Homo sapiens: one gene and its partners. The protein of the gene in region 3 purifies or fractionates together with the protein of the main gene of each other region. This does not show direct contact. Each region holds a gene or a part of one and is shown on either strand. Other genes may lie near its edges.

The links.
Region 1: the proteins of EPS15L1 (region 3) and IVNS1ABP purify together in Homo sapiens (affinity purification with mass spectrometry, with the first as the bait; one large-scale study listed by BioGRID). This does not show direct contact.
Region 2: the proteins of EPS15L1 (region 3) and AP2A2 purify together in Homo sapiens (affinity purification with mass spectrometry; one large-scale study listed by BioGRID and IntAct). This does not show direct contact.
Region 4: the proteins of EPS15L1 (region 3) and SBNO1 purify together in Homo sapiens (affinity purification with mass spectrometry, with the first as the bait; one large-scale study listed by BioGRID). This does not show direct contact.
Region 5: the proteins of EPS15L1 (region 3) and CROCC purify together in Homo sapiens (affinity purification with mass spectrometry; one large-scale study listed by BioGRID and IntAct). This does not show direct contact.
Region 6: the proteins of EPS15L1 (region 3) and MCM6 purify together in Homo sapiens (affinity purification with mass spectrometry, with the first as the bait; one large-scale study listed by BioGRID). This does not show direct contact.
Region 7: the proteins of EPS15L1 (region 3) and NCAPG fractionate together in Homo sapiens (co-fractionation; one large-scale study listed by BioGRID). This does not show direct contact.

What each region holds. Positions count from the first base shown.
Region 1 is NC_000001.11:185,295,888-185,298,065, forward strand, and holds the end of IVNS1ABP (influenza virus NS1A-binding protein), read right to left. Parts: coding exon 2,148-2,178; 3' UTR 501-2,147; downstream 1-500. UniProt on the Homo sapiens protein: Involved in many cell functions, including pre-mRNA splicing, the aryl hydrocarbon receptor (AHR) pathway, F-actin organization and protein ubiquitination.
Region 2 is NC_000011.10:1,005,870-1,009,304, reverse strand, and holds part of AP2A2 (AP-2 complex subunit alpha-2), read right to left. Parts: intron 2,778-3,435; coding exon 2,688-2,777; intron 1,294-2,687; coding exon 1,170-1,293; intron 206-1,169; coding exon 89-205; intron 1-88. UniProt on the Homo sapiens protein: Component of the adaptor protein complex 2 (AP-2). Adaptor protein complexes function in protein transport via transport vesicles in different membrane traffic pathways.
Region 3 is NC_000019.10:16,461,971-16,465,470, forward strand, and holds part of EPS15L1 (epidermal growth factor receptor substrate 15-like 1), read right to left. Parts: intron 1-3,500.
Region 4 is NC_000012.12:123,319,848-123,323,347, forward strand, and holds part of SBNO1 (protein strawberry notch homolog 1), read right to left. Parts: intron 1,886-3,500; coding exon 1,688-1,885; intron 1,020-1,687; coding exon 852-1,019; intron 761-851; coding exon 585-760; intron 185-584; coding exon 53-184; intron 1-52. UniProt on the Homo sapiens protein: Plays a crucial role in the regulation of neural stem cells (NSCs) proliferation. Enhances the phosphorylation of GSK3B through the PI3K-Akt signaling pathway, thereby upregulating the Wnt/beta-catenin signaling pathway and promoting the proliferation of NSCs.
Region 5 is NC_000001.11:16,928,431-16,931,930, reverse strand, and holds part of CROCC (rootletin), read right to left. Parts: intron 2,086-3,500; coding exon 1,900-2,085; intron 1,808-1,899; coding exon 1,724-1,807; intron 1,646-1,723; coding exon 1,584-1,645; intron 1,503-1,583; coding exon 1,337-1,502; intron 641-1,336; coding exon 534-640; intron 1-533. UniProt on the Homo sapiens protein: Major structural component of the ciliary rootlet, a cytoskeletal-like structure in ciliated cells which originates from the basal body at the proximal end of a cilium and extends proximally toward the cell nucleus.
Region 6 is NC_000002.12:135,869,944-135,873,443, forward strand, and holds part of MCM6 (DNA replication licensing factor MCM6), read right to left. Parts: intron 2,901-3,500; coding exon 2,754-2,900; intron 419-2,753; coding exon 308-418; intron 1-307. UniProt on the Homo sapiens protein: Acts as a component of the MCM2-7 complex (MCM complex) which is the replicative helicase essential for 'once per cell cycle' DNA replication initiation and elongation in eukaryotic cells.
Region 7 is NC_000004.12:17,834,979-17,838,478, reverse strand, and holds part of NCAPG (condensin complex subunit 3), read right to left. Parts: intron 1,321-3,500; coding exon 1,139-1,320; intron 853-1,138; coding exon 678-852; intron 1-677. UniProt on the Homo sapiens protein: Regulatory subunit of the condensin complex, a complex required for conversion of interphase chromatin into mitotic-like condense chromosomes.

The DNA of each region.
Region 1 (2,178 bases), on a different chromosome or scaffold from region 3:
GAAGCCAAAAATCAGAACCCTACATTTAAAGTTCATAATAAAAGATCCACCCGAGTATAACCAATAATATTTGGTTTAGATATTTTATAGCTTTTCTACCTTTTTAGGAAATTTAGAGTGTTTTATTAAGTTGACCAGAAGTGTGGTATTATCAATATTATTTTGAAACTATTCAAAAATTCCTACTGGTTAAAAAGCTTTTTTTTTTTTTTAAATTGTGCTGAGGCTATGCCATTTTCTCCCTCTCTGAAGAAAGTATGTACCTTTTAGATACAGATTAACAGTAACAAATGGCCACTGAGCACTGCTTTTTTTCCTTTATGGAAACTTCTCATGTTCATGCAGACTAGCTACAACAGCTTCTTAAAAAAAGATACTTTTTGGCCACCAAACTACCTCTTTGGCATCCAAGGTAATGCAGGAAAACTTTGACCCAAAGTATTCCCATATATTATTTGCATTAAGCATGTCACTTATGAAATGAGAAGTGATCTCAAGGATTTTAGTGCTGAATCCTCAACTAAAATTTTATTTCCTTGTGCTGAATAGAACACATACAGATCCATATTAAAAACAGTCATCATATTAGGCAAATTCAATCTGTCAATGTAGTTTTAGTCCAGAACCAAACCAGTGATAGTTAGGAATTACAGAGTTACCAACCAAACTGATTTGCTTTCCTGGTGGTTCTTTGTGTAACAGATGAGAGAAATAAAGTGGCAGAGTACCAGTGAACATTTGGAGAAAATACCTAATTATTTTCTTCCTAACCCAAGTTAGCCACTGAATAGTCATCTCAGAATAGTCACCTCATCCCAGTTGGCCCATTAGGTTCCTGTGTGCTTCATCTTCTGTGAGAAAAAAAAACCTTATATCATTCCTTATTTCAGATGTAAGATGCCAGGTGAGTTATTTTCCACAAATTTCTTAAGCTCATTACTGGAAAAAAAAATTTCTCAAAACTTTTAGTAATGAATGAGTGTACAAGCAGCAATTGGATATTAATCCCATGGTGCAAGGATTTCCTGCAAAGTACCTTTAATGTGTTTAAATCAGCAGCAAGCATTAGGACATGCTATTTTGGCCCCATAAGTTAGGTGTGTAGCACTACACATTAGACACCAAGTCATCCCAACCAATATTTATCCATATGAACAGATAAACTGAACAAAAACATAGTTCTGATAAAACCTGCATTCACAACCTAATGTAGTTTAAAGTAAATTTTTTCACAATTGAGGGCTGCTATTTAGGACTGTTTTGTTAATAATAAAAACAGGAATTATATAGAAGATAAAACACCATTTTTTACTGCTATATAATGTCTTGCTATATAAAACATACCCTCAACAAGTCAAAATATTTAAAACCAGTGTTTCAAATACCAAAAATCACAGCTATGTTACTGTTCAGTAACTCCACTCAAATAAATGTTAGTACTGCATTCTTGAAGGAAAAAAACTGCAGCCAAGGCAAGAACTCTGAAGTTTGCACTCAGAGTTTAAAAGACAGACCCCTACTCTGCAAACTGAAGACTGCCACTCTGCTTCAATAACTCCAGCCTGCCACATTTTACTTCAATTGGTAAAGCACTCTGCTGAGAATATAAAAAGTTATAAAAAGGCAATCATAAAAGATTAAATATTGGTAGGCATGTAAGCTTCCTTTTAATAAAAACAAAAATAGTCAATGTCATCTATTTAAATAAGTATCCTTTGTTATAGAGTGTTCCAGTTATTGAAAAAGGGCCCTTAAAAAACCCAACTGTCTACATCTTTAAACCCTACCCCTTTTACCCCATAGTACACATTTGAGGGAAGAGTCATTTAATGTGCAAATTGGCAAAACAAATGTGGAGGAGAGGGGACTTCTTGAAATGATGTGCCCAATCAATTCTTGGTTTATTCTTTTCCAAAAAGTAAAATAACCAAAGTCTTAAAAGTACACAAAACAGACCTTCATCTTTGCATTCCTTTCCAAATAAACCCAAAAAGTATGTACAGCATGTTTAATAGTATGCAATATGCAAAAGCTTTGTGTTGCTGTTAGCAACATCTATACCCACCCACCCTCTTTATTCACAAGTGTACCTCTACTAACCATAATTACATCACTAAGCCTGTTAGTTTGAGAGGGTCTTAAATTTGTTAAAACTGGAAAATCTTTGTATAGGGGCTC
Region 2 (3,435 bases), on a different chromosome or scaffold from region 3:
TGTTCTCAGCCAGGCCAGAGACCAAAACCCACCTTTTCAAATGAGCCCCGTCCCCACCCCTGACCCCTACAGGAAACAGGTTTCTCACTTGCTCAACTGCTTCCAACGTTGAAAGAAATCCTGAGAAGCCATTTCTGTCGGCTGGAAGAATTTGTTGAGAGTGATGGGCAGCTGCACAGACACGTTCTGGAAGGTGCCCCCATACCTGCCAGCAGCAGCAGCAGCAGAAAGAGACAGTCAGCTACTCCTCTGAGAGCCCCAGGGACCGGGAAAGAGCCTGGAGTGAGAAGCGTCCCGATCTACTGCCACCCACCAGAGCGGGTCGGGGGGCCGAGCCTTCAGTCCCCACGGATCGTGTGTGGCTCAGTGTCCAGTGTCACCCACAGACAGGAGGACAGGCCAGGGCCGCATACTCAGGCAGGACGTCCCTGTGCCTCACTTCTCCCCATTCATCTGTTTCCCAGAACTCCAAGTCTGTGCAAATAGTGTGATGTTTTTTCTTTAAAAAGGCAAAGGCATTTGCACAAAGAATGAAACAAAAACTTGCATGTCTATGTCCCCGAATTCTACAGTATACAATCTTAAGTTCTCTGTCTTTTTAATGTTAGAAAGTGTGCTTTTCTCAACATTCCTAACCTTGCAGACACCCAGCAGGGGACGGGCTGACTGTATCCACGCTATTTGTAGTCACTGAAAAGTGAGAGTAATGAACAGTCGCAACAGGAAAATCCTATGCTTTTAAAAAATAAGCAAAGTGGTACGATCTGAGCTCAACTGAGCAAAAAACGCGCCCCCCAGGCCAGGGGGCCGAAGGAAACCAGCTGCCTGCACCCCACAGCTGTCGTCTGGTACCAAGCCGGGCAGGTGGCGCGGGGGCCCTGGCTGTCTGCCACCCCATGAGGTGGGCCCCATGGTGCCCAGAAAGATCCTAGCAAGGCCCCATGTGGGAGCTGCCACCTGCCGTCCCGGAGCCCAGGGCTCCGCCTCCCCTTGTTTCCTGCGCTCTGCAGAGCCGGGGGCAGCAATAGCTCAGGCCGCATCCATGCACCGTGAGCACCCGCACGCCCCGGGTCCCCTCAGGAAGGACACGGAGGCACAGTCATGGAGCCCAGGCACACAGCTCAGGCGCCCACACACCCCTTGGCCCGGGGCGCACAGGCGGCTCTTACCTGAACTGAATGTTGAGGACTGGCGCCTCCGTGAAGTCGGACACGCACTCTATGTTGACCACCTGCTGCACCTGCGCGCCCCCCTCCACGGTCGGGTCCACGGGCTTGGTCTGCAGGTTCAGGTGTGCGTGCGTTAAGGAATCCAGCTGAGCAAGTCCCAGTGGCAGAAGCGGAAACGGGCCGGGCTAGAGCCCCAGCAGGACCCGTGGAGGCGAGCACACTCACCACACTCTAGGACCACCAGCTACGGGTCGAGGGCAGCCACACCACCCGGCCCTGCCCTTCCACCCAGACAATCCTCAAAACACTGTCTGCTTCTCACGCTTCCAGAATGGCTCCTCCATTTTAAAAAGTCACTTAGATTATATACTACTTGTCTGTTTTCACTCTGAGCCTCGGCTCTGGGTCTTACACACACAATTTTTGTCACCGTTAGCAGAAACTGGTGCTTAGTAGGGCAGGAAAACTTTAAGAATCCCAGGAATAGCAGGCTCCTGAAACAGCGAGACACAGAAAAGAGCCTGCCCTGCTGGGACCAGGGTTGTTTTCATGCTGGAAAACAAGGGTTTGCCTACAGCCTCTCCTGAAGAAACAGTGACAGCAGCAAAGCTGGGTCCAGGAGGCAGCGGGGTGCAGGCCTCTCCTTCCCTCTGGGTCGTGTGCCGCCGGCCACTCAGCTGCTGGGCTCGCTGCCGCCTCGAGCCAAGTGGACCCCGAGGGAGAGACCCCTAAAGAAGGGCGCAGTAGGAGTCAGAGCTTCCACTCCAGATTCCAAACAAAGTCTTTAATACAGGTGCTCCTGCATGTGTATTTTTAATGACTGTTTTGAAACAGCTTGAACAGTCTGCATTAAAACATGTTCATGTTAAAATGAACAGACCAGCCAGTGGCAAGGAGGATGTTGCTTCACTCAGGTCGCTGACCATAAATCCCCAGGTGTCACCATCTCTGGTCAAGCTGGGGTCTTCACGCTAACTCTATTTGGCGGGCCTATCCTTAGAGGTAGAGACGTTAGCGTCTCCCTGTTTTAGCTGGGGAAGTTCTAGGAACGCTTCTGGCATTACGAAGGGAAAATCTTCAGTCTAAAAGCTCTGCCAGAAGCACACACAAGCTCGGCTGGGGTGCGCACCGCGCTCCAGTCCCCACTGGCGCCTCCCACACTCTGCAAGCAGCAGCTCTGTGAGGCTTCGGAGAGGAGGGGTTTAAAGATCACGTCACAGGAGAGTAAGAGCAGGTGAAAAGGAAAGGGACTCACACTGGCCAGATGGAAGGGGAGGAGGCATGTACACGGTATTTTTAGGTGCATGATCAAAAGCTGGCTCTCCAATATGGAAGACTGCCTGTTTTCCTTCTCCTGCCCAGCACCATAGGCAGATTACGACTGCCTGATTTTCATATAGCATCTGGAATTATCTCGCTATTTTAACAAAATAAGAAAACCAAAAAACTTCCTCAAAAGCCTCCTCTAAGCCCCACATTATGCTGTCTGCGGGCATGGGGCAATGAAGCCAAGGATATTAGGCTGAAGGTCGTCTGAACAGATTAGTGTTGGGGTAAAGTTTAGGAACTGCGTGGAGGTCTTATTACCATAAAAGATAAACATCCGACCTAGAAGGAACAAAAACAATTTTTTCACACACACCATTTCACACTTACCCTGAATATTTACCCTGAAAAACAAGAGCCCCCCACAATCTTCAGCTGAATTTAAGTTCACTGTTGTGATGTATGACTGTTGTTAAAATTAAGAACAAATTTTTTCCAGTTTTAGAACGAGCACACCAGTGCTGGTAACACGGGCCGGGTATCTCCTCCAGTCAGAGGTAACTTCCGCCCTCCAGCACCCTCCTCCCTCGGCCCCTCCTGCGCACCCACACGGGATGGGTGAGATCACACGCATATGCACGGGGAAGGACCCACAGAACGCCCCGTCTGCAGGCTGGGCTACAGCTGGAGGGGCCTGCCAAGCATCTTTTCCAGGGACGCCACAATCACACAGGCCTCTGCCGGCCCCGCCCCATGACTGCAACATGCAAACACACGCACCGGCCCCGGCTGCCTCCTGTCAGGGGACCCGGCTGGGCACGCGTCCAGCACAGCATCGGTGTTGCACACTAGCCCTCACTGCAGCGGCTCAGCCACGGCACAGGTGCACATTTAGGATGTGTCGCTGTTTTTATTTATATCACAGTAAAAAATCTTTGTGAACATCTGTATACCCCTTGAATTCAGAAAGGAAATCTCAAATATTTTGAAAACAGTAAAC
Region 3 (3,500 bases):
TGCCAGGAGCCCAGATTTCAGGGGCTGGGAACCCAGCAGGGAGCAGGAAAGACAGAGCTCCTCGACCCTCCCGGAGCCCATGGTGTGGCAATCATAGGACAAAATGGTGGCTTTGGAGCCCATGGTCTGATTCAGACGCCTGTTCTCCATGGGGGTCTGACCAGTTGTTTTACCTCTCTCCCTCTCAGTTTCCTCATCTAGAAACAAGCACAGGGACAATGGCACCATTGTTGGTCCCACAACATTCCCTCACTCCTGCATCAGACCTGTGCCCCAAATCTCTCCCCAGGGCCCAGAGCTGCCTGCCTGGGCCCACTCACTGGTGAGGGCAGTCAGGGTACCACCAGGGCTGGGGTCCCGTTGCCACCTGTTCTGGGAGACCAGGTTACCAGAATCAGGGAAGTGGGGGGGAGGGCATGGTGGCTCACACCTGTAATCCCAGCACTTTGGGGGGCCAAGGTGGGTGGATCACTAGAGGCCAGGAGTTCGAGACCAGCCTGGCCAACATGGTGAAACCCTGTCTCTACTAAAAATACAAAAATACAAAAAAATTAGCCAGGCTTGGTGGTGTGCACCTGTAATCCCAGCTACTTGGGAGGCTGAGGCAGAATTGCTTGAGCCCAGATGGCGGAAGCTGCAGTGAGCCAAGATCATGCCATTACACTCCAGCCTGGGTGACAAAGCGGGACTCCACCTCAAGAAAAAATAAAGTAAAACAAAGAATCAGGGAAGTGGGACTCTGAGAAGGCAGAGAGGGGGCCAGGAAGCTGTGAAGATGGTGGTGGGAGACAGGGCCTGTGCAAAGGGTGGGGGCAGGACACTGGTCCACGCAGTGTACAGCCAGTCAGAGAGGCTGCACCCAGCTGCTTCCTCCAGGCCTGTTGGAACAGAGGAGGGAAAAGACAAAAGGAGGCACAGGCGCCCTCTTCCTCCTGTCCTTTATTCCCAGCCCAGTGGAGGTGATTCATCCCACCGCTGTGGGTGCCACCTGACTTCCACGAGTGTGTCACACTATGTCCTAATTTTCTGTGTGCCTGGGTGCCCAGCTGCAGTTGAGCTGACCTGGAGGGTGGGGCTCGGTTTTATTTATCTTGGTCCCAAGACAGCACACAGTAGCTCAGCAGACAGAATCTCATGGTGCCCCAGCCCCAGAGCTGGTCTTCTTTTTGACTGTACCTAAATGTGGGGTCTCACGTGGCTTGGAGGGTTTCCTGCAAAGTGATGGGTTTTGACTCAACTGACACAGCCACAGCCCACCAGGCTCTGCCCACCAGGCACTCCCACTGCTGCTGTCCTGGCTCCCTGAAGGTGGCCTCAACCTGACGGTTGCAGACACTATGCCTGCTTCTTCCCCCTGCTTCCTCTCCCACCTAGACCCTCACCTGTCCAAACAGCTACCCCACATATTCCTTTCACCCCCAGCCCTTTCTACTCTTCCTGAAACAACCTCAGGCCAGGTTCCTCTTGATCACTTCATGCCCATATCACAGAGACTGTCTCGGAGCTAGAACCCAGCTCCAAGCACTCCCTGTGTAAGCAGCCAGATCATCTAAAGGTGTCACTCCTCAAGAACCTGCCATAGCTCCCTACTGCCTCTCATAATGTGGCCCATGCTACTCTTCCCTCAACAGATGATTGTTGAGCACCTGAGTGCCAGCTGCAGCCTGGCAAACAAGGATGAATAAAACAGGCACAGTCTCTGCCCTTGTGGACCTAGTCTAGGTGGTTGGGGAAGACAGACCATCAATCAACCCCGCAAAGAGAAAATTATAAACGGCTAAATGGAAAAGGTGTCCATCTCCACCAGTGGTAACAGAGATGCTGGGCCAGTTTGTCAGGAAAGGCTTCCCTGAGGAAGTGATGCCCCAGCTGATATGAAAAGGTGTAGGGATTCACCAGAGGATGAAGGGTTTGGAAAGAGCATTCCAGAGAGAGGGAATAGCAGATGCAAACGCCTTGAGGCAAGATGAAGGATCGCCTGCGCAGATGACAGAAAGAGGGGCCAGGGGGCCACAGAGCAGAGGGAATGAGGACTGCAGGCCTGGGAAACACGGGGAGCAGGTGTGCTGTCAGCTGCCGGTAGCAGCGCCTGATCCAGCCTGGCTGGTGTGCCCAAGAGGAGGAGAAGTGACTTTATGTCAGCCTGACCTGCAGGCAGTCAGTAAACAGATTCTGTTATCAGGTCTACATTCCACACCACAGGCAGTGCAGATGGAAATCCGAGACAAATGTCTGTGGTCATCTGTGACCTTTACTTTCACCCCAAAGCTTGTAGTATCAAGAGCTGGGACTCCTATGAAGGGAAAAGCCCAAAGAAGCTTTAAGAGCTAATGGTCTGCACTCCATGCAGGAGCAAACTTCAGGGCCACCACTCTGACCAGCGGTAAAACCCAGTCCAGCGCGAAGGACAGTGGGCAGGTCTCAGCTCCTCAGCCCCCACCAGCCACTGGCCACTCTCTCGGCAAGCAGACATCCTGTCAGTTCGGCCGATTTGTAGCCCAGACACAAACTCTCACGTCTTATTTACCAAAAGACCTTCCTCCTCTCATCCCTGAGCTGCCTAAATTAAAGGAAGGACATGAACCCCAAAGTCCCAGCCGCATGTTTTGGCCCTTTGACCTAGACCTGCAGCCTCTCAGCTCTGGCTCAGTCCTCTTTGCCTCCGTGTGAAAGGCTATTCCCCATGGCCTAGACCAGGGGTGTCCAATCTTTTGGCTTCCCTGGGCCACACTAGAATTGTCTTGGGCCACACATAAAATACACTAACACTAACACTAACACTAACACTAACACTAACACTAATGATAGCTGATGAGCTTTAAAAAATTCACGGGTGGGCATGGTGGCTCACGCCTGTAATCCCAGCACTTTGGGAGGCCAAGGCGGGCAGATCACAAGGTCAGATCGAGACCATCCTGCCTAACCAGTGAAACCCCGTCTCTACTAAAAATACAAAAAATTAGCCAGGTGTGGTGGCGGGTGCCTGTAGTCCCAGCTACGCAGGAGGCTGAGGCAGTAGAATGGCATGAACCCAGGAGGCGGAGCTTGCAGTGAGCCGAAATTGCACCACTGCACTCCAGCCTGGGCAACAGAGCGAGACTTAGTCTCAAAAAAAAAAAAAAAATTCACAAGAAAACCTCATAATGTTTTAGGAAAGTTTACAAATTTGTGTTGGGCTGCATTCAAAGCCATCCTGGGCCACATGCAGCCATGGGTTGGACAAGCTTGGCCTACACCAAACACGCCCTCTCCTCCATACAACCATGTCCAACACCCAAATGGAAGCCAGTCATCTGCCCCTCCTGCAGCTTGGACCACCCGTGACCTGAGCCTCTGCTGTGGGCCGGGCCTGGACAACTCAATTCTGCATGGGCCAGGAGCACTGATTACCACTCTGGCAGGGAAACCTTTGGATTCTCCTAAAGACAACTGGCTGGGAGTGGTGGCTCACACCTGTAATCTCAGCGCTTTGGAGGCAGAGGCAGGAGGATCACTTGAGG
Region 4 (3,500 bases), on a different chromosome or scaffold from region 3:
TAAATATACAGGCATTGTTCTTTTCACTGAGAAGCATCTCAGTAAAACATACCTTATCTCCATCCATAAATCGTTGTTTTTCTGTGATGTTTAGTATTTCCACAGGCACATCAAGTTCAGATCTTGACTCATAAGATATGCTTCCATCATCATTGCTCACAACCCGTCCCTTGCGGCCAGTCATCTGAGAAGCCAAACAATGTCATTACAATGAAGGTATCTGACTGCGGTGGATGGACTCAGTGCCTCTTTCCTTGAAGACACTTGGGAGATAAGAGCACAGGCTGTGCTGCACCACACACTGAAGGATACAGAACACTGCAACAGAGTCCCTGGAAAAACCTTGACACATGGCCACGATCACAAAAGATGCGTGATAAGTGCAGTAACTAGGACCAGTGGCTTGGGACAGACACTCAGATACTGCAGGCAGCAGTTCATTGGATGTAGGATGGCAACTAAAGTAGAACAAGAATTCTATGATCTAAGAAATTTAGATTATTATGTGAAGACAGTCAAAATACAACTCATTTTACAGGGGTTCAAATGGCAAAAATGTCACCAAGAGATACAGGCCTATTTACCTCAGCAACGTTCTCAGGGCCACCAAGTTCATCGATAAGTTCATCCAGGGTATTAGGGGGGAGGTCTTCAGCTAATTTTTCTAGCTTATCAAGCAGGTCTTTCTTCATCTGCTGAGCCCTTTCCACAGCATCCTGACTTGTTATAAGGCTACTGTTACTGTTGGTGTTACTGTTAGCTAGATAAAGAACATTTGCTAAAAGTTAGTACAAAGTTTAAATATTTTTGTTTAAAACAGTATTTCAAAAAGGAAGTTTCTGTATGGATACCTGGTGTACTGTTAGGAGCAGGTGAGATAACTGGTGTAGATGAAAAACTAGGTCGTTTTGATCCAAGACCTGATGCTAATAAGGCACTTTGAATAGAATCTGGATCTATACTTTTCTTCTTTTTTTTCTCTTTGTTTTTCTTGTGGTCTTTTCTAATTAACCAGGGATCTGAGTGTTAAGGAAAGATACATGTCAAATCATTTGTTAAAACAAGTACAGAATCTTCAAAGGAAACAACCTTTGAAATTTTATTTTTTTGAGACAATGTTTCGCTGTTGTAGCCCAGGCTGGAGTGCAATGGCGCAATCTCAGCTTACTGCAATCTCCACCTCCTGGGTTCAAGCGATTCTCCTGCCTCAGCCTCCTGAGTAGCTGGGATTACAGGTATGTGCCACCACACCTGGCTAATTTTGTATTTTTAGTAGAGATGGGGTTTTTCCACGTTGGTCAGGCTGATCTCGAACTCCCAGCCTCAGGTGATCCACCCACCTTAGCCTCCCAAATTGCTGGGATTACAGGCATGAGCCACCGCGCCTGGATGAAATTTTTTATATTGTTAACTGATAACTTATCACCACCTACATTGGTTCATCCATACACCATGGGGTACAAATCCATGTTTTCAAGTTAAAAATAACTGCACAAAATTGAGGTTATCTTCTCACATATATGAGGCTCAAACTTCCAGAAGGTAGATAAGCCTGGAGCTTTCCACCAAGCAAAGATTATAATCTGTGTGATCATTTGTACTGTACAGAAGAAAAGGTTTCATATCCCATTTTCAAATATACTGAAATATTATATGCTTTCGTGTATATTTAATATACTGAACTTACCATTTTCATCATCCTCATTAGACTCATCTAAAAATGGGTTGAAATCGTCATCATCTCCAGAACTCATGTTTTTAGAGCTCTCATAGTCACTTTCTTCATTATCAGAGGCATCAGATTCACTTCCACTGTCGTCAGAACTGCTACCAGTAAGGCCACCTACTTTTCGTGCTTTTTTGGCTTCTCGAGTTATTTCTTCACCTACCCTCCGCCACAAACAAGAGAGTCAGCCCAAATTCAATGTTTCTTAAGATCCAGTACATCACATTTAGTTCATGAATTAATTCAAATGAAAAGTGCAGAGGAAAAGTATTTAGGTTAAGTCAAAAAACAAACAGAATTCACAAACCAGCACTAACCTTTTGGACTCCCATAAAAAATAAGGTTATAAACATTTATTCTGAAGAAGAAATTGGATACAAAAGTACTAAGTCAAGACTGCCTTCAAGTGCACAAGTTTCAAAACATATTCAGGACAACAGAGTAAAAGCAGAACCTCTGGCATAGTCACAATTTGACTGTGTATCAGATTTGAGAAGAGGCCTAATAATTACAGGTTTATAGACATGGAATACTTAGAAAATCAATAGAAAATCAATTTATAAAACCTTTTTATTTTTGGAGACAGGGCCTCACTGTTGCCCAGGCTGGAGTGCAGTGGCACAATCATAGCTCACTGCAGCCTCGACTTCCCTGGCTCATGTGATCCTCCCACCTCAGCCTCCCAAGTACCTGGGACTACAGGCACATGCAACCATGACCAGATATTTTTTTTTTTTCCCCAGACAGTGTCTACTCTGTCTCCCAGGCTAAAGTGCAGTGGCATAATCTTGGCTCACTGCAACCTCTGCCTCCCGAGTTCAAGTGATTCTAATGCCTCAGCCTCCCTTATAGCTGGGATTATAAGGCGCCCCTGCCGCCAGTCCTGGCTAAGTTTTTAATTTTTAGTAGAGAAGGGGTTTCGCCATGTTGGCCAGGCTGGTCTCGAACTCCTGACCTCAGGTGATCCGCCTGTTTCAACTCCCAAAAAGCTGGGATTACAGGCGTGAGCCACTGTGCCCGGCGAGAAGTCAACTTCTAAAACCAAAACAGGGCTGGGCGAGATGGCTCACACCTGTAATCCCAGCACTTTGGGAGGCCTAGGTGGGTGCATTGCTTAAGCTCAGGAGTTTGAGACCAGCCTGGCCAACATGGTGAAACCCCATCTCTACTAAAAATACAAAAATTAGCAGGGCGTGGTGGTGCATGCCTGTAATCCCAGCTCCTTGAACCCAGGAGGCAGAGGTTGCAGTGAGCCAAGATGGTACCACTGCACTCCAGCCTGGGTGACGGAGACGGAGACCCTGTCTCAAAAAAAAAAAAGAAAAAAAAAGAAAAGGCTCTTTTAAAGAAAACTACTGAAACACCCAGCTGTCTATATATTAAAGAACAGGTCTGACAATACAAAGACACAGGTTTTAGTTCCCATGCATCATTAACTATCTCTGTGAAACTAGGAAAACTCTTTAATCTTTAAATCTTTCTGTGCTTCAATGATCTCTGTCTATAAAATTGGAAAAATAAGACCTAATTTCGTATGGACCTCTGCCAGGTTATATGGTAGAATGTATATAGCCAAGTGCTTAACACACTGCCAACCACCAGTGAATTGCTCAATTCCTAATTTAAAACGGGGATAACTTGTGCATTCAAAATTGTACAAGTGACAGTGAAAATTTGGAACCATTTGTGAATTCATGGAAGGCAGTTCATTCCCAAAATATAGCCACTTTAAAATGCTTATGTTTTAATTTCAACAGTATTTTCAACGTCAACT
Region 5 (3,500 bases), on a different chromosome or scaffold from region 3:
AAAAAAATTAGCTGGGTGTGGCGGCATGTGCCTGTTATCCCAGCAACTCAGGAGGCTGAGGCAGGAGAATTGCTTGAACCCAGGAGGTGAAGGTTGCAGTGATCCAAGATCGTGCCACCTCACTCCAGCCTGGTGACAGAGCAAGACTCCGTCTGAGAAAAAAAAAAAATCAGGAACTTCAAACTCTGACTCAGCCACTTATGTACTACTGTGTGACCTCAGGAAGATCACTCAACCTCTCTGCGCCACAATGTCCTCATCTGTAATATGTGAATGAACACAGTTCCTACCTCACAGGGAAGCTATGAATATTAGTTGAAATGAAATATACAATGAGCCTAGCCCAGAGTAAACATCTAATAAATGCTGACTGCCACGACTGTGGTAATGGTTATTACAAGTTGCCTCTGTGTCCTCACCGGCCCTTGTGCACAGTAAGTGCGTTGAGTTGAACTGAAATTCAACTGAGTTCAGTTGGACATAAAGAGCAGGGCTGGCTCTCAGCTGCTGCCCCGTCCCCGGCCAGGCCTCACCTCTCAGTGAACATCTTCACCTCGCTGACCAGCCGCCGGAACCCCACCACCTGCCTCCAGAGGAGGAGCAGGCGACTGTGCTCGTTGCTGAAGTAGGCGTTGAAGGACTGGAGGGAAGACATGCCGAGGGAAGGGTTGGTGTGAGAGCGGGTTTACTCCCTCCCACTGCTTCCCTCATCTCCGACCATCCTGGGAGGCACCGTCGTTCAGGGATTGGGTCTTCCTGTGGGTCTGTGCACAGAGCTGTGTTGCAGCGGCCATGCTCAGCCTCCCAAGCCTCATGGCTCCCTCCTGCACAGGGACCTGGGTTTCAAGTCCTCTTTTGGCTGCAAGAGGCAGCAACGAAGGGCAAAAATGCAAGGGACCTAGCTTTGCATCCCAGCTGCCAGTTGCATGACTGTGGGCAGGTTACTTAAACTCTCTTTATTTATTTACTTATTTGGAGACAGAGTCTTGCTTTGTTGCCCAGGATGGAGTGCAGTGGCACGATCTCTCAGCCTCCCAAAGTGCTGGGATTACAGGCGTGAGCCACTGCGACCGGCCTTAACCTCTCTTTAAAATGAGGAGAATGATAGCACCTACCACATGCAGTTATCATGAGGAATAAAGGTCAACGCACACCGTGCACGTGGTACATGCTACACACTGATAAAGACCAGCTATTGTGATGACGGCTATTTACTTCTGCTAACAGGCTCCCTTGGACAGTGCTCCCTCTCCCTCTCCAGGCTTCTGAGTCCTCCCTCCTCTGCAGTGCCCCTTCCTCTTGGGTCAGGCTGGCCTCCCTGCACCCCCATGCCCACCTCCTCCTCGCGCCTCCACGCCGCCTCCCGGTGCTCCAGCTCCTTGCGGCAGCGTGTCCAGTCATTGGTCACCTTTCGTATGTCCTCACTCAGAGCCTGGTTGGCCGAGCCTGCCTGGTCCAGCTGTTCTCGGAGCATGGCATTCACCTGGGCCAGGCTGGCACTCCTGAATGGGGCACAGGGGATCAGTAGGCGCTCGCGCAGGGGGCCATCCTGCCAGCCCTGGCCCTCCCTGCTGCGCCCTCACCTCTGCTGCTCCTCCTCCAGCCGGATGAGGGCGCTTTCCAGGTCTTGGCTGTGCTCTGTGTCCTGGGTGGGAGAGAGGTTAAAGCATCAGGTTGGGCAGGTGGAGGGCAGGGCCTGCCCCTGCCCCACACTGGCACCCACCCTCAGCCGCTGCTGCTCCAGCTCTCCGGATCTCTCCAGCAGCTGCTGCTCCAGCTCCGAGCACCTCTTCTTGTACTGGAGAATCTGGGGATGGGGAGCTGATGGTGAGCCCCAGGGGTTGGGGCGGGGCAAAGTGAACAGGTGGGAGGACAGGAGCAGGAGTGGGTGGTCCTGACCTTGCCCTGCAGCCGCTGCACAAGCTGGGCCTGCCGCTGCTGGCCCTCCTGGTAGGCCTGCAGCTTGCGCCGGTAGGAGGCCTGCTCCTCCTGCAGCTGCCTCCGCAACTCCACGCTCTGCCGTACCAGCCCCCTGGGCTCCTGCGTCTCCAGCTCCCCAGGCTCCAGCCGCAGAGCCTGCTCCAGCTGCAGGGAAGGGCCCTGGGTGAGAGTCCTGGGCCTCCTGGGAAGGCAGGCTCAGGCTTCTGTAGGGCGTGGCAGGCTGGGCCCAGACCCACAATGCCTTGTAGGCTGATAGCCTGGCGCCCTGGGGAGCAGCACATGTGGGCAAGCCCAGGGGCAGTGCACGTGTGTATGGGGTGATGCAGCCATGCACGGGCACGCAGACGGGGCATGCATGGACACATGCAGGTGAGCCCACAAACCCAAACCACGCAGGCAAAGCTCAAAGGTGCACCTGGGTCAACCTCAGGGGCCTCAGTACACCATGTGCCTCTCCTCCAGAACACTTAGCCCTGTCGTGGTTTCTGTTTATTACATTGATGCCTGTGTCTTCCCACCATGCCCCGACCCCAATGTGAGCTCAGGAAAGCCTGGATTTTTTGTTCCTCATTGTATCTTAGTACTAGAATGGTGGCTGTGGAATGGCATGGCTCACGCTCAGTAAATATTTGTTGCGATAGTGAATTAATGGGATGAGCTCATGGGAATACATTCAAAACAGAGGTGTCAATCTGTCTATGCATATCTGACCTTAAAGATATGCACACACATAACACATACAGGCAACCTCAAACATTCCCGGAGGACACGAAGGAACCCCCTCATATACACAGCATTAAGATTTGTAAGAGGTGCACACAGGTGTTGCCCTATACGGCGCCTGCATATTAATGCCCCCTTCTGGCTGGGTGCAGTGGCTCATGCCTGTGATCCCAGCACTTTTGGAGGTCAAGGCGGGTAGATCACTTGAAGTCAGGGGTTCAAGACCAGCCTGGCTAACGTGATGAAACCCCGTCTCTACTAAAAATACAAAAATTAGCTGGGCGTGGTGTCATGCACCTGTAATCCCAGTTACTCAAGAGGCTGACGCAGGAGAATCACTTGAACCTGGGAGGCGGAGGTTGCAGTGAGCCGAGATCGTGCCACTGCACTCCAGCCTGGGCGACAGAGCAAGACTCCATCTTTATTTATTTATTTTTTATTTTATTTTATTTATTTATTTTTTTGAGACAGAGTCTTGCACTGTCTCCTGGGCTGGAGTGCAATGGCTCGATCTCGGATCACTGCAACCTACACCTCCCGGGTTCAAATGATTCTCCTGCCTCAGTCTCCCAAGTAGCTGGGACTACAGGTGCACGCCACCACACCTGGCTAATTTTTTGTATTTTTAGTAGAGATGGGGTTTCACTATGTTGGCCAGGCTGGTCTCGAACTCCTGACCTCGTAATCCACCCGCCTCGGCCTCCCAAAGTGCTGGGATTACAGGTGTGAGCCACAGCATCCGGCCCAAGACTCCATCTTAAAAAAAAAAAGGTCCCCTCCATCCTCACTGCAGGAAAGCCTCTGTTGCTGCTGCCCTTCCTCCACCCCCAGGAAGC
Region 6 (3,500 bases), on a different chromosome or scaffold from region 3:
TTTTTCCTCCTGGTATTTTACAGCATCAATTTTATAAGTACTTGTTTTATAATTATTGTGATTATCAATTATGAAAAAGTAATTTTACAGCAACAAACCTATTTTTTGCATGATTTAGGTAGAAAACCTAAGCCAAAAGACTTCACAGACAAGGAAACTGAGGCTCAGGGAGGTAAAAGTGATTTGTATAATGTTAAATAGCCAGCTAATAGCAGATCAAGGCAACCTCTCAAGTTTTCTGACTGTCAGCTAAGTGGTACTTATACCATTTGGTGAATTCCTTTTTTTCCAGAGAAGGGTTTCTTACTTGTGTCTGGTAGGCAGGTCTTGGAATGCAACATAAAAATCCTTGGCAAGAGGGATCTCTTTACGGTCTTTGACGAATGTTTTCAAGGCCCGACACAGGTAAGGGTAAACTCTGAAAAACAAAAAAGTCAGCTGATACCTTAGAGGTTTACCAAGGCCTCCTTCCCTTTACATACCTACCAACAGCCGAGATTAAGGAATTTCATCTGGTTACAACTAAACCTTAGAACTTAACTGTGTAGGACACTTCTATTATCTACTCTAGGTTTAGGACCCTCTTTCAGTTCTCTCCTATCCCACCGGAACACTAAATATAAAATGTCATACCATACCTGATTATCATATAGCACATAAATAATCATACAGCACCCACACTGTTGGCCATTCCTCTGTCCAAGATGACTAGCTGAACAATCATCTTGTCAATATTATGCTCAATACTGTGAATTTTCTGTGGGCTGTTTATGACTTAGTAAGTCATGTGTCAAGTCAGTCAATTTCTTTGGTTTCATTCTGAGACAAGGTCTCACTCTGTCACCCAGACTGGAGTGCAGTGGCACGATCACAGCTCACTGCAGCCTCAATCTACCTAGGCTCAGGTGATCCTCCCATCTCAGCTTGCTGAGTAGCTGGCACTACAGGCATGCACCACCATGCCCAGCTAATTTTTGTGGGGTTTTTTTTGTAGAAATGGGATTTCACCATGTTGTCCAGGCTGGTCTCAAACTCCTGGGCTCAAGTGATCTATCCACCTCAGCCTCCCAAAGTGTTAGGATTACAGGTGTGAGCCACCACATCTGGCTGGTTTGATAAGAAATGGATGAGGACAGGAGAAGTATTTGTGCACTAATGTGAGAACAAATTGGCAAAAATGCTCCATTTGACTGGTGAGAGTGAAGTATGCATGTCCTTTTGATATGTTTCTAATACCTACTCCAGCTTAGTTTGTTTAAGAAGTGGGGTCTGAAACCCTCTAAAAAAGGCGCTACTCTCAGGAAAGAGAACTGCTGCCTGGCTTGTGCATGAGGCATGGCACAGCTGCTTCTACCACCAGGCTTGATTGTCTACCTCTCCCTTATTTGTCAGTGCTATAACTTCTACTGCTGCATGCTTTCACAATAAATCCTGTTGCTTACTTACCCCCTCCAATTATTCTTGATCATCAGCTATGACCAGAAACACAGACAAATCCTCCATCTCCTAATCTACTAAGAAATGAACGAGACTGTGCCTCCTTATCCCTGGGTTTTCATTTATCTTTCACAACTGTCCACAATTTATTTTAACCTGATTCTATTTCTATAGACTGTCACATTTATTTAATCCTAATACAAAGTCTTGTGTGCAAAGATGTTTCTTGCTATATATAACAAGTCAAAACAAAATAAAAGCCTTCTATTAAATATAATGTCTAACCATAGTATTTCTACCAAAAAACCACAATTGGAGCTATTAGTATGAGTTTAAGAAATTTTATATGAATTTGAGTAATTTCATACACAGCATACACACAAAGACATCAAAATGTGACAGAAGATCCTTACAAAACTCTGCACTTGCAGACTTGGAAGGCTCCTGGAACTCTGTTGTAGCAGATCTGCTAATGACGGTGGTGGATTACAAGTGTATAAGCAATTTAATTCTCCTTACTCTTCTCCATTTTCTACAATATATACCTATTACTTTTATAAGCGAAAACAAAATTAAACTTTAAGGGAACAAGAAGTACAACAACGTCAATGCTGTAAAGATATCCCCAGTACAAGAAAAGGACCCACACAAACACCTATTCCTGTGGGGAAAAAGGATCAATGGAATGACACAAAAGTAAGTAAGTACAGTTTTCCTCTTGGGAAAACTATATAGAAAGCAAAGATTTTCAACATTTGTATTTGAAAAAAAAAGTTCAGCTCTGGCCGGGCACGGTGGCTCACGCCTGTAATCCCAGCATTTTGGGAGGCCGAGGCGGGCGGATCACCTGAGATCAGGAGTTCGAGACCAGCCTGACCAACATGGTGACACCCCGTCTCTATTAAAAAATGTAAATAATTAGCCGGGCGTGATGGTGGGCGCCTGTAATCCCAGCTATTCGGGAGGCTGACGCAGAAGAATCGCTTGAACCCGGGAGGCAGAGGTTGCAGTGAGCCAAGATCGCGCCACTGCATTTCGGCCTAGGTGTGACAGAGCAAGACTCCGTCTCAAAAAACAAACAAACAAACAAACAAACAAAACACAACAACAAAAAAACGTTCGGCTCTACAAAGGCCTACATGAAGTTCAGAGCAGTACTAAAACGACCACTGGCAGTATCAAAGCGCCTCTTCTCAGTGGGAAATAACTGTGAAAGCTGACCTTCTGCTACACAAGTGAACACTTACAGTCCAAGAAGAGCTGGCTTCCCGGATTTCAACCCCTATTCAAAGTAAAGAAGATTAATATGCCCATACCTATAGAACTCCTCTTGAATGGTGGTGGAAAGTTGCTGGTTAAATTGTTCCAGGTCCACAAAACTCACAACCAATGTGTTTCTCTCAGGACGAATCAGTTCCTCTGCTAATTGCAAGTATTTAATTTCTCCATCGCTGCTCTGAAACCTGCAGGTACATTCGAGTCAACTAGATTAAGGACACAGGCAGTACAAAGAACCTGAATGATAATTCAGAACATTGGTTAAAGTCCAACAACTAGGCTCAGACAGGCCCATGTTTGGCAGTTCTGTAACTTGGGGCAAGTTACTCCTCCCTTCTGATATGGTTTGGCTGTGTCCCCACCCAAATCTCGACTTGAATTTCCACATGTTGTGGGAGGCACCTGGTGGGAGTTAATTGAAGCATGGGGACAAGTCTTTCCCCTGCTGTTCTCTGATAGTAAGTCTCACGAGATCTGATGGTTTTAAAAAGAGGAGTTCCTCTGCACAAGCTCTCTTTGCCTGATGCCATCCACGTAAGACATCAGTGACTTGCTCCTCCTTGCCTTCCACCATGATTGTGAGGTTTAACTGCTAACTAACAAAAAAACCCAACAACTAACTCTTCTTTTACTACTGTCATGTATAATTAAGATTGGAAAATGTTAAATCAAGAAATTCAGTCTCAAACCCAATGATTCCATTTCTGTAGGGAATTTGCAAACTAACAAATTAGTCAGGGATTTAAGAAGCAGAACAGAAATAAGAATACATGGAAATGAGGTGT
Region 7 (3,500 bases), on a different chromosome or scaffold from region 3:
TGCTTAATAGCTCTATTACTGACCCTTACCTAATTTTGCCTAATATCCTTTGTAATCTTATCTTTCCAATAATATACAACATATGAATTGAACAGAGTAGCTTATCACTAAATATCAAATAAAATAGAGTAATACTTTCAACTTAATCTGTTAGCATCTGAAATCACTAATACATTAAATTTCAAAAATGGTAACAAGTTTGACCAAATGCCATTAAAGGATTAAAACAACCCAGCTTAAGTTCAGTCTGTGAGTCAGTGTGCAATTGATTTATCTTCTTTGAATTAAAAGCCAAAAAAGCTTGAGGTGAGTTCTAGTCTTTGAATTCTCCTTTCTTGTGCCAGAAGCATAGCAGGTAAGCCAACATTTGAAGACTCTGTGAGTCCTAGATAACATAGGTTATTACTTCAGATTAACAGTCAGTACTAGGTGGGCATGGTGTGGGTGGTGGATTTTTAGTAATTTCTTTTCAGTAGCAAAAATGTTAGCATTGATTACTTCTGTTTTCATATGATTTCTCCACATTTCCCAAGGTCATGTTTCTTTCGTGCTTTGTGGTATATGCTTGAGACAGAAGTCTAAAGACCAAAATGCAGTTCCTCAGTATTTCAAGGGATCTTTGAGAGAGATTATTTTACCAAAACAGTGATCTGCATGCAGTTACCACAGTCACTCACCTGATAATCTTGGGAAGTCTTGGCCTGAGGATTTAATCCACTTGGTCTTGTCAAATCTACAAGTAACTCAGCAACATTTGTGATATCAATTTCAGCTAAAGGAGAAGATGCAGGGGCATTGGCCAGTGTTTGCAGGGTTGGAAGAAAAGCTTCTTCAAAGCATTCCTGATTAGTCCTATTGAGAAACAAATTCAAAGTATGTTGGCAGAACATTATTTGATGAGAGAAAAAGTATGAAATTCAAAACTACTATGTAGGAAATTCACTCATTAAGTGCATTTTCATCTAGGAAAGAGCCAAAAATTCAGATAGATAAAATCTGTATCGTTCTTGTCATTTCATCATTTATCTACTAAAGACAGAAAAAGTATCAACAACAAAATATCATTATAGATATAATTCATGGGGGACTTGAATTTGATGTCAAGTCAGATTTTTGATTTATCAGTATGACTCAATACCTGCTTGCATAAGCAAACACGGGGAAGAACACGCCTAGGCAATGTCGAAGTTGAACATCCTCTTCAGTCACAGGATTGTACCATAACAAAATAAGACGAGAAAGAATCCTGCTGCTGACCAAAAGCCCAGAGAACATCAGCTTGGCTAGTCCTTCTGCAGCTCCAGTCCTAAGTTCAGATACCTAACAAAGATGACATTCATTAGAAGAAATTTATTTGTATCTCCTTTTTAAGCCTCTCAATGTAGCCTGTCCTACAGTATTTTTACACGAACCATCCAAAAACCATTCGAGTTATTACAAATTCTTTAAAGGCAAATAAAAAGACTGTTTCTTCAAAGCTAGAATAACAATTTTAGACAAATCTAAAAGACTAGGAGACTAGACAAATGCTTAGTCTAGCCATGAAAAATTCAATTATCTTAAAACTTTTTAGAAGAACCAAAAGGCCTTTTATAACTGTTGGAAAAAAAGAGCAAAACATATATTTAAATGCTTAGGGTTTCTAAGACATAGAAAACCCTGGCCCCTGGTATTAGAGGAAGGTGCCTATCTATAAGCAAAAGCTCCATATGTAGGAGTGCAATTTGTCTGAATAATGGATAGAATGTGAACAGAAGGTGTTGAAGCAGAAGGCATTCCTAGAAAAAGTAAACAAAAGTCTAGAGAAGACAAAGGAAAAGACAACTGGATGTACACAGGCAAAACAATGAAGCTGGACCTTAGACCATATACAAATATTAACTGAAAATGCATCAACAGCCTAAATATAAAAGCTAAAGCCAGAAAACTCTCAGAAGAAAACAGGGATAAATCTTCATGACTTAGACTTAGCACTGGATTCTTAGATAGGACACCAAAAGCAGAAGCAACAAAAGAAAAAAATGAGTGTATCTCCAAAATTAAAAATGTTTAATACATCTAAGTATATTAACAAGAAAGTAAAAAGACAACCTGTAAAATAAAAGTTACAAATTATACCTGATAAGGATCTACTACCCAAACTATATAAAGAACTCTATAAAGACAACCAACCCAACTTAAAAATGGGCAAAGGACTTGAACAGACATTTATCCAAACAAAATATACAAATGGCCAAGAAGCAGATGAAAAGATACTCAACATCACTAGTCATTAAGGAAATGCAAATCAAAACCACAATGAAGTAGCACTTCATATATACTAGGATAGCTATAATGTTTTAAAAAATGGAACCTAAGTGTCAATAAGGATGTGGAGAAATGGAAAACCTTCTACACTGAAGATGGAAATTTAAAATGGTTCAATCACTGTGGAAAACAGTTTGTCAAGTTCCCAAAAAGTTAAATGACTGAGCAACACAATTCCTAGGTATACAGATACCCAAAAGAATTGAAACAGCTACTCAAACAAATACATATACATGCCATGTTCATAGTAAGCAGCACTATTCACAATAGCCAAAAGGTAGAAACAGCCCAACTGTCCTTCAATGGATGAATGCATAAACAAATCACCATATATACATAAAATGGAGTATTCGGCTACAAAAAGGAACGGAGTACTGATACAAGATACCATGTGGATGAATCTCGAAAATGTTATGCTAAATTTAAAAAGCTAAACAGAGGTCACATACTGTATGATTCCACTTACACAAAATATCCAGAACAGTTAAATCCATAGAAACAGACTGCGGATTGGTTGCTGTCAGGGCTGGCAGAAGGGGGAATGAGGAGCAACTGCTTAATGAGTAGTTTCCTTTTGGGATGATGACAATGTTTTAAATTAGATGATAAAGGTGGTAGTTGCCTTTCATTTTGAATGTACTAAATGCCAATGAATTGTTCACATTAACAGTATTAGTTTGGGCCAGGCACGAGGGCTCACACTTGTAATCCCAGCACTCTGGGAGGCTGAGGCAGGAGGATCACTTGAGGCCAGGAGTTCAAGACCAGCCTGGGCAACAGAGCGAGACCCTGTCTCTACAAAAAATTTAAAAATCAGCGGGCATGGTGGCACATGCCTGTCATTCCAGCTATTCAGGAGGATTGCTTGAACCCAGCAGGTGAGGGGTCAGTGGACTATGATCACGCCACTGCACTCCAGCCTGATGACAGAGCAAGACCCTATCTCAAAAAAATAAAATTAAGTTTTGTTATATCACTTCTAACTCAATGAAAAACTACAATCAGTATAAAAAATTTTTAATCAGTTGGTTTACATGTGTGCTACAAAAATAGTAGTTCAAGAGTACTTAAAAGAGATCCAATCCCATACCCTATCTTACATCTTCTACCCACCCAATATAAAATTATTCTAAACTATTTCTTAAAAGTCTTGGGGATAAATCTTAGAGTCTCTATATCACAAATACAACATA